Linked DNA regions of Homo sapiens: region 1 is linked to region 2. A link means that fine-mapping ties the variant in region 2 to the expression of a gene that starts in the linked region. Tissue or cell type: whole blood. Region 2 holds a variant in brackets; the other region holds the start of a gene. All regions are shown on one strand. Distances are between the middles of the regions.

Region 1 (5,013 bases), 75 kb after region 2:
TAGAAGATAGGGACAGCTGCACATGTCACACAGCCCTTCTGACCTTGTGTGTGCTTCAAGTCCGAGATTCCTGACACAAAGCAGCGTGTGCCCCCCCACCCACTCTGTGGCCACAGCTGGAGTCCTGGGCTGCTGGGTGCTCCAGGTGCCATACCCCACACACGCATAGAGCCCGTGGGCTGGCAGCGGGCACCCACAGTGGCCTCTGCAAAGCCTGCCTGGCTGCGGCTCGTTTCCTCACTGCAGCATGCTCATAGGAATGTGGGAGTTTCGCTTGAAGTGTGGGTAAAGAGTTCTGGGGTTGTTTGAGCCATCCCAGGCCACAGGGCCTCCAGGAAGTGGAGGAAATGGTAAATCCAGGGTCCTCTTGGCCACTGCGTTGGCCTCTGCACACTTGGCCCCTGCGGACCCTGGGGCTTCTGCTTTACTGTCTGTGACATAAACAAGTGACGCTTGCCACCTTCTTGCCGGGAAAGCCAGGCTGGGTTTTCTCATTTCCACCTTTTCCCTGTTTTACACGAGGGCACGAGGATGGGGCTGCAGTATCAGTGACGCACCTGTCACCAGCGGGCCACAGAGCTTTGTGTTAGCCCCTCTCAAGCCCTTTAGCTTCTGGAACCGTTTAAATTCTTAAAAATTATACAGGACCCCAAAGAGCTTTTGTTTATGTGAGCTTTATCTATTGACATTTACCATACTAGGAATTAAGAGGACATTTAAAATTATTTAGCTACATAAAAATAACAATAACAAACTTACTACCTGTTAACACACATTTTAAAATGAAAAGTGGCTACATTTTCCAAAACAAAAAACGTGAATCTTTAGCTCAATCAATGTTTCAAATGGAAGCATTATGACAGTCAAAAGCTGGCAACTAAACATAACTGGCACAAGCTCTGCCACCGAGACAATGGAGGCCTGAGTAGTAGGCTCCCTGCAGAATGAAAGGACTGGAGCTGCCAGCATCAACACCAACGCATCTCCCAACAAGGGTGAGTGAAAACACACACCTAAAGACCTCAGAGAGCACGTAAGCACACAGCTGTGCATCCACTCTGAGGGTGAGCCACCAAGCACACGGTGACCCCGGGGAGCGCCCGAAGGGAGTGAAGTATCTGAAGGAAAGAAGGAAGTGAGCGATGGGCAAAGGAGAACCTGAGGACCCTGGCACAGTCTCAGCTGCAAACATCTAGTCTTGCTTAACTGGGGTGCAGAGGCCACTGCACCTCAGGGTTCTCACGAAGCGCCTGACCTCTCTATTTTATTACTATTATTATTATTATTTTTTTTTTTTGAGAAGGAGTCTTCCTCTGTCGCCCAGGCTGGAGTGCAGTGGTGCAATCTCGGCTCACTGCAACCTCCACCTCCCGGGTTCAGGCGATTCTCGTGCATCAGCCTCCTGAGTAGATGGAATTACAGGCATGTGCCAGCATACCTGGCTAATTTTTGCATTTTTAGTAGAGTCGGGGTTTCATTCACCATGTTGCCCAGGCTGGTCTTGAACTCCTGGCCTCAAGTAATCCGCCCGCCTCGGCCTCCCAAAGTTCTGGGTTTACAGGCGTGAGCCACCGCGCCTGAGCCCTCTAAGAGCCCCCGCCTGGCGTCGCTGTAGGCAAATCCCAAAGAACGTGTCCCTTCAGCAGCCGGCTGGGGCGCCACAAACACTATCTGTTGTCTTCGCTTTAGTTTGTGTCAAAGTGACTCAAAGTTACACAACACTGGCGGGCGACTGCCGCCTTTTTACCCTGTGGCCTTTCCCATCCAGGCGTCCAGAGGGTGAGCCCCTGCCCTCCAGGACCCCTCCCTTCCAGGACCCTACCCGTCTGGGACTCAGGCCTTCCCTGACTCCTCCCTCCCGGACTCACCCCTCCCAGATCCCTCCCCTCCGGGACCCTCTCCCCTCCCGGGCCCCCTCCCCTCCGGGAACCCCTCCCCTCCCGGACTCACCCCTCCCAGATCCCTCCCCTCCAGGAGCCCCTCCCCTCTCGGGACCCCTCTCCTCCCGGACCCACCCCTTCCTGACCCCTGCCCTCCCGGACCCCTGCGGGACTAGATGTATACAGCTGAGACCATATCACGGTTCTCACCCTCGCTCTACCCTCCCGGACCCCTGCTCTCCCGGACGCGTGGACTCCAGCTCCCGCCTGGGTCCCCAAAGCGCTGAACCCATGGTCACTTCTATGCGTAGCCCTGGTGCCCGCCGCCCACAGCCGGACCGCACTCCTCGGCCTCCGCCTAACCCCTGGCTCAGCCACACGAGTGACAGCTCTGCCCGCCCGGGCGGGCGACGCCGAGGGGTGGGCTCGGCCCCACCTGAGCAGTTCCCCAGCGCCCCTCTGAAACCCGCCTGTGGTCCCTGGCGCCGCCTCTAGGGGCCGCCGCCGCTCCCCTATGACACAGCAACAATAGGGGCCGCTCTGGTCCAAGCGCCCTGCGGCCCGCGCTTCCGCCGGAAAAGAGCCGCCGGCGCGGGGGCGGACCGGGGAGGAGCGAGTGCGATGGACGGTCGCCCTCGCCAATCGTTGGCAGGTTAGAGCCGGCTGCGCGGCTTACGGGGCTCAATCGGCGGCGAGAGCGGCAGGCGGGGCGGGCCGAACGCGGGTTTCCGGCGGGGCCCGGCAGGCGCCGAGGAGGAAGAGCGAGCCCGGACGGCGCCTCTCGAACGAGTGTGGGCGCGAGGCAGGTGCGGGAGTCGCCGGGCCTGGGGCGGCCGGGGGCGACCGGAGGCGGGGGCAGGGGCTGCTGGACCAAGGATGGGGCGGGGGCAGCCAAGACGAGAAGGTGGCCGGCGCGGCGGGTGGGGCCTGCGGGGGCCGGGCCGGGCGGGGGTTCTGGGGTCTCGGGCGCCGCCCCGGTTCCGCCTGCGGCTCTGAACGTGGGGCTCGGCGGGAGCTCGGGCGGGTCTGCCCCGCGGAGCGGGTCGCCGGGGTGGCGCGTCGAGGCTGGTGCCCCGCGGAGACGGCGTCAAGCCTAGGGCCGGCCCCACTAGGCTTGGCGGGGCTGCCCCGGCCCAGCGCCGAGTGCGGGCGGTGCGATCGTCGTGAGCGGGGCAAACGCGGAAAGGCAGCCCGGCGTGTCTGAGTCTGCCTTAGGCAGCTCTGGGCGCAGGCCCCCTGCTCGCAAACACCCCAGGGGGCGGGAGCTTGCCGGACCGCAGGCGACAGTGACCGCCGCGTCTCAGCGTCCTCTCCGCGCTTTCAGGATGACGACCTCAGGCGCGCTCTTTCCAAGCCTGGTGCCAGGCTCTCGGGGCGCCTCCAACAAGTACTTGGTGGAGTTTCGGGCGGGAAAGATGTCCCTGAAGGGGACCACCGTGACTCCGGATAAGCGGAAAGGGCTGGTGTACATTCAGCAGACGGACGACTCGCTTATTCACTTCTGCTGGAAGGACAGGACGTCCGGGAACGTGGAAGACGTGAGTGTCCCTGAGCCGCAGCAGCAGGACAGGCGACTTCTCGGGCCCTCGGAGTCCTCGCTTTGGAGTTCGCGGTGGGGGCTTGGCCGCATCTGGGGACCGCTCGTGGGGCCGTCATCGACTGCCCTGCTGATGGGTCGTCCTGGTTTCCGCGGTGACAGGGGCATCTCGGCCACTGTGTATCTTGAACTGTCCGTGTGAGGTGCCTGGGTTGGAGGTGTGGCCCTGGAGAGCCCGGAGCTCTGTGCCTGGCCTTGAACTGTCCGTGTGAGGTGCCTGGGGTTGGAGGTGTGGCCCTGGAGAGCCTGGAGCTCTGTGCCTGGCGGCTTCACTCAGTCTTCTTTGTTTTTCAAACTCTTAGTTGTTCTTTGTTACATTTGAGAGCAGTTCAGCGTTGACTTTTTAACTACTCTGGGAATGTTGTTTCCAGCACGTCTCAGAAACCCCGTTGCCATCTGAAAGGCCCCTTTCCCTGCTCTCTCCCCCGGCCTTGCCTTTCATGGGCTGTCTCTGACCCTGGCTTCTCTGCCTTGTGGAGACCCTGCCAGCGAGGGGTCTGGCGGCTTAGCTGCCCCTTGCGCACCCCACCCGGTTAGACCCAGGGCTCAGTACGCTCTCCTGAGACTGGGCACAGTGATGCCATCTGCGCCACTGACTCTCTCTTCCCCTGGCTTGCCAGGACTTGATCATCTTCCCTGACGACTGTGAGTTCAAGCGGGTGCCGCAGTGCCCCAGCGGGAGGGTCTACGTGCTGAAGTTCAAGGCAGGGTCCAAGCGGCTTTTCTTCTGGATGCAGGTATGGGGCAGGCCTTGGGGTTGTGCCTTTTTGTTGCCCTGCGATTCGGTTAGGAACTTGCTTACAGTGTGGTGCAATTGGCTTTTATAAACCAGCAGGCGCCGGCCACACCCGGCCACACGGCCTGAGATGCCACCTCAGGGCTGCGGTGCATGCTACCTGGGGCCGAGGTCCTCTCCCAGAGTACGGAGGCTCCAGGCTGGGCTGCGGGCAACCGATTGCGGTGTGAAATTTCCAGGCAGACAGACATGCTGGCCCTGGTTCTAACGATGCCCAGTGCCCTCTCTCTGCCCCTTGCCGTGGGTCACTGAGGCCCCCACAGCAGAGGCAGAGGCCCCTGTGTGGCTTCCCTGCTGGTGCTCACAGAAACGAAGCATCCTGCTCACACTTTCCACAGTCCTGCCCCTTCCCTGGCAGTGTGTCCTGGAGGCCAGGGGTGTCAGTGCCCAGGGTTTCTCTTACCCACAGCTGCAGAGCGTCTTTTGGGTCTAGAGGCCGCTGCTCATTCTGCCATCTGTCAGTGACCATTGAGCTTGTTGCCGTTTTTTGTGCTGTTACAGGCAGTGTTGCAAAGAATTTCCCGGTACACAGATCATTTTCCATAAGCCAGTATCATCTGTAGGTGAAAACTGGTGGCGGGCCTGTGGTCAGGAAGCGTGTGCATGCGTTTGCAGTGTGGAGAGAGAAGGCCATGCTCTCTGCCAGAGGTGGAGCTGCTGTCCCCACCCCACCCCCCTTGGCACTTTCAAGAGCAGGGGTGGCCCTGGCTGAGGTCTCTGTGGAGCACATGGTCTGTGTT
Region 2 (5,013 bases):
TCCAAAGGGCCTAAGGACAAGGAGCAGGTGCTGTTTCCTACGCCCACGAAGTCCAGGGGCAGTGAGTTTCAGGCACAGCTGCATCTGGGCTCAAGTACAGTTGCTCCCTCCATTTCGTCTTATCCTGTGTGCACTTCATCCTCAGGCAGGGATTATCTCCCTGAGGTCTCTCCCTGCAGCTCCAAGTGACTCCCCTGTCCCCTCCTCCATCCCCAGGCAGGAGAGGAGGCTGCCTTTCAGCCAACAGAACCCCAGGATCAGCTGCTTTGGCCTGGCATTGGCCTGGCTTGGGCAATCGTGATGCCTGAGCTCACAACGGTGGACTCAAACCCTGGCTGAGGATGCACGAGGAGTGGAGGGGGAGTAGTGGTGGTCATCCCTGAAGCTGCTTTGAGGTCCCCGCGAGGAGCCCCTGCTTAATCCCCCAGCAATGCCTCAGGGGTCCAAGTGCCATCCTGCTGGGACAGTGGGCCTGGGCACAGAGAGCCTGGCCGTGGTTGGGGCGGCAGGGAAAGTGCGACTGCAGAGATGACCTTCTCTCGGGGCATCTGCTTCTCTTGTTCCCTGGCTGCTGTGAGAAGTGAGGCTGAGAGAGCAGGGAGAGGGGCAGTGATGGGTGATGGCAGTTTGGCAGGTCTCAAGGGGCCCGGGCAGGATGGCTGTGGAGCCACCCGTGGTCCATCCGTAGGAAGGAAGCCTGCAGCCCGCTCGGGGTCTGCTCCCTGCTCACCCAGGGCTGATACAGCCAGCTTAAGGGACAGGGTCGCAGGCTGGGCGTGGGGGCTCATGCCTGTAATCCCAACACTTCAGGAGGCCAAGGCAGGAGGATTGCTTGAGACCAGGAGCCCAAGACCAGCCTGGGCAACACAGACAGATCCTGTCTCTACAGAAAATAAATAAAGAGGCAGGGGCACACCCACACCACAGGCCAGGACAGCGGCCCCCAGAAAACCAAGCTCCAATCACACCTCAGCTCCTTCTGCTGAGACTGGGGGCCTGTTGAGCCCTGGGGCCTGGGTCCGAGGGCAGAGGCTGGGGCAGGGAGAGTGCAGAACTGAATGGAGCCTGACCCAGCGCTCTTCCCTCCTAAGGATGGCGCCCGGTGGAGACATCAAGCACGAGAGAAGGAGTGATCCCGGGAAGGCTCCCTGGAGGAGGTGGTGCCTGGAGGCGGTCTTGAGAACCCAGGTCTGATCTGAGGGTCAACAGCCCGGTGAGTGCAGAGGCTGCCGGAGAACTGGAGGAATAAAAAATCTTTGCCGGAGGAAAGGAGCTCCTGCCTCCCCGGAAAGTCCCTCCGTGTGAGCCAGACTGTTGCTGGCGTGCAGTGTGCACCTCCTAGGGCTGGCTGAGAAGTATTCGCTGAATGAATGGAACAGATTGCATCTGTGCAGCCTCCCTCCGTGGGCTAGGCATGAAGACGTGATAGAGAAAACAGAAAAGAAGACAGAAAGCAGAACGGTCTCCACTGTGCTTTTCCAGAACCCTCTGAAAGGCCGAGAGGGCTCCAGGGCAGCTGGGACCCAGCCCCAAACCCAAGTCCAGCTGTGGGGGACCCAGCCCCAGCCCAGGAGCCCTCGCCCCATCCGTAAGAGCATTTGGTGGGGCCTCCTGTGGCTATGATCCAACAGAGCAGCACTGCCTGGGGGGCCTCCGAGCCAAACCCAGGCCATGACCCCCGATCCCTGCTGGTGCCTGGGGGTGAATCAGGCCCTGGACAGTGGTAAGCATCAAGCCAGGGGGCCGCTGGGCCAGGCCAGAGGTAGGGACAGGCCCTGGGGGAGGGGGATGTCTGGACCGTCAAGCTGGTTGGCATCCAGCTCCTCCTGCTTCCCATGCCAGGGTGCCTTGAGACCCGGCTGGTGTCTGCCCTGAATACCTTGCCCACCCCCTCAGCCTAGGTCCCCCACCAAGTGGGGACCAGGCTTGGTGACCCCGGTCCATCCTGCAGGCCCCCATCCAGGGCGCAAGGCTAGGCAGGCCAGCCAGGGGCCACGTGCTCCTGGCTGCTCCACACACAGGCCGTTGGGGCCCTCCCCTCCAGCAGCTGAGGTCAGCATAGGCAGGGGCCTGGTGGATCTAGTGGAGGGCGACAGACAAGAACGTGGGACATGTGGCCAGCACACCTGTGCTCACCGCCCAGGGCTGCTGGAGGGCTAGCCCCGTCTCTGTCCACCCCCTGCCTCCCGCCTGGGTGGGGTAGTCTGTTTGGGGAGGAAGCAAGGATGGCCACGG[C/G]GGGGGCACACTGGAGGCCCGTTGTGAGTACTGTGCAGGCCGGTCTCCATCTGGCTGCCGCCTGGATCCGTTCTCAGGGTAAGGCTGAGAGGCCAGCCTTACCCTGGAACCTGAAGCCTGGTGAGGAGGTGGCCCCTCCTCCTCCCTCTGTCCCCACCTCCTGCACCTCCATGCCCCTCCCCAGACACACGCCCCTCACGCTCTGCCCCACCCGGCACCTTCCCCTATGGGTGCCTCCTCCCAGAAGCCTTCAGGGTTATTCCAGGTCTTCCCATTGCCTGTGCTGTTCCCAGAGCTGCTGGCCGTGGTCCCAGGTAGTGTATGCCCTCACCCCTAGGGCAAACGCAGCGCCCTGACCCCTCCTGGAGCCTTGGGTCCTCTTCCCCTGCAGAAGGTCGGGAAGAGGCGCCACGTGGAGGAGCTGAGCAGTGCAGGTGGGCTCAGGGAGCCTCGTCCTGGAGGGGGAGTCTGGGCCCTACGAGGACGAGGACAGAGATGGGGACAGGGACGGGGACGACCCTCTCTGTTGACTCCCTGGAGTCCCGCAGATCCAGGGCAGCTCCTGGGGACCTGGTGCCTGCTGGAAAAACTAACCCAGCTTTGATCAGTGCTGGGGCCGGGACCCAGTGAATGTGGCCGCCCCCGTGTGCTGGGGGAGGAAGGATGGGGGCTCCCAAGCAGCAGGCAAAGAATGCATGCGTGTGCGTGCGTGTGTCTATGTCTGCGTCTGTCAGTGTACACGTCTCTGTGCATCCGGGTATGTCTGTGCGTGTCTCTCTGGGCTATGTGTGTGTGCACGTGCGTCTGTGGGTCTGCGGGTGTGTCTGAGGGTGTTTGGTGCGAGCTGTGACAGAGGTGTCGGGAGGAAACTGACACTGTCCCCTTCTGCCCTGCAAGGGACAGGTCAGGGTGGGAGAAACAGTTCCTCCCTCCACAAGGCCCTGAGCCAGGGCAGGGGGCGACAATTGCTCTAGAGGCAGACTCCCCTCCCCTGGGTCTGGGCACGAATCACTGTCACTTGCTGCCCACACGCCTTTCCATACACACACACACTCAACACTCATCCCACACACACTCGCACACGCAACACTCACACACTCAACACTCTCACACTCACCCCACACACACTCACACACTCAACACACACACTCAACACTCAGTCACACTCATCCCACACACTCACACACTCAACACTCACACACACCCACACATTCACCCACACTCACACACACTCCACACTTATCCCACACACCCACACACTCACCCCCCACACACTCAACACACACTCATCCCACACACTCACACACTCATCCCCCACACTCAACACACACACTCATCCCGCACACACTCACTCAAAGACTCATACGTTCAAACATACTTCCCCCCATTCCCCACACACTCACACTCAAATACGTACACACTTCCCCTCAATTCACACATACTCACACACACTTCCCCTCAATTCCACACAAACACACACTTCCCCATTCCACACTCACACTCACACACACTTCTCCAATTCCACACACACACACAGTCACACTCAAACACATACACACTTGTCCCCATTCCACACACACTCACTCTCACACACTTCTCAATTCCACACACACATACACACTTCCCCATTCCACACTCACACACTCACACTCAAATACACACACATTTCTCCCCATTCCACACACACAAACACATACACACTTCCCCATTCCACACTCACACACTCACAAACACGTACATTCTCCCCATTCCACACACACTCAAACACGTACACACTTCCCCCATTCCACACACACTCACTTCCCCATTCCACTCACACACTCCCCCATTCCACACACACACTCTCACACACTCCCCCATTCCACACACACACTCACTCTCACACACTTCTCCTCAATTCCACACACACAAACACATACACACTTCCCCATTCCACACTCACACACTCACACTCAAACACACACATTTCTCCCCATTCCACACACACACAAACACATACACACTTCCCTATTCCACACTCACACACTCACAAACACGTACATTCTCCCCATTCCACACACACTCACAAACACGTACACTTCCCCCATTCCACACACACACTCACTCTCACACACTTCCCCCATTCCACACACACACTCACACACACACTTCCCCAATTCCACACACACACACTCTCACACTCCCCCATTCCACACACACTCTCACACACTCCCCCATTCCACACACACTCACTCTCACACACTTCCCCCATTCCACACACACTCACTCTCACACACTTCCCCATTCCACACACACACTCACTCTCACACTTCCCCATTCCACACACACTCACTCTCACACACTTCCCCCATTCCACATACTTATGCTCACACAGTCACACATACACACAAACTCACTTCCATACTCACACCCTCAACACACCCATACACACACACTCCCAATTCCACACACTCTTCCACTCACACACTCACACTCATTCACTTCCACACACGCACACACTCCAATTCCACTCACACACATTTCCACTCACACACACTAACACTTTCACACACGCTCACTCATACACTTCCCCCAATTCCACACTCTTCCATTCACACACACATTCATTCACACTTCCACACACACTCCCACAATGCCACACACACACTACACACTCACATTCACACTCTCACACACACACTCTGCCACACACACTTCCACTCACACACACAACCAGAAAACAAGGGAACAAGCTGTCCCACCTGGGCTGTCCCTGGGGGAGCAGGGGAGAGTGCCTGG

What was found. PIP is the estimated chance that this variant, and not a neighbour inherited with it, causes the effect.
Region 1: ADRM1 starts here. The variant in region 2 is fine-mapped to the expression of ADRM1 in whole blood (INTERVAL, PIP 0.94).

Annotation. Positions count from the first base shown.
Region 1 is chr20:62,300,364-62,305,376 of GRCh38, forward strand. It overlaps ADRM1 (ADRM1 26S proteasome ubiquitin receptor), which reads left to right and starts at 2,634. Exons shown (of 10, transcript NM_007002.4): 1 at 2,634-2,686; 2 at 3,205-3,418; 3 at 4,098-4,214. The coding sequence starts at 3,206. RefSeq lists silencers at 2,144-2,263, 2,284-2,743.
Region 2 is chr20:62,225,753-62,230,765 of GRCh38, forward strand. LOC105369209 (a long non-coding RNA gene) reads left to right here and starts at 2,491. Exons shown (of 4, transcript NR_160555.1): 1 at 2,491-2,549. RefSeq lists an enhancer at 2,354-3,254. The variant C/G (reference allele first, on the strand shown) is at 2,236.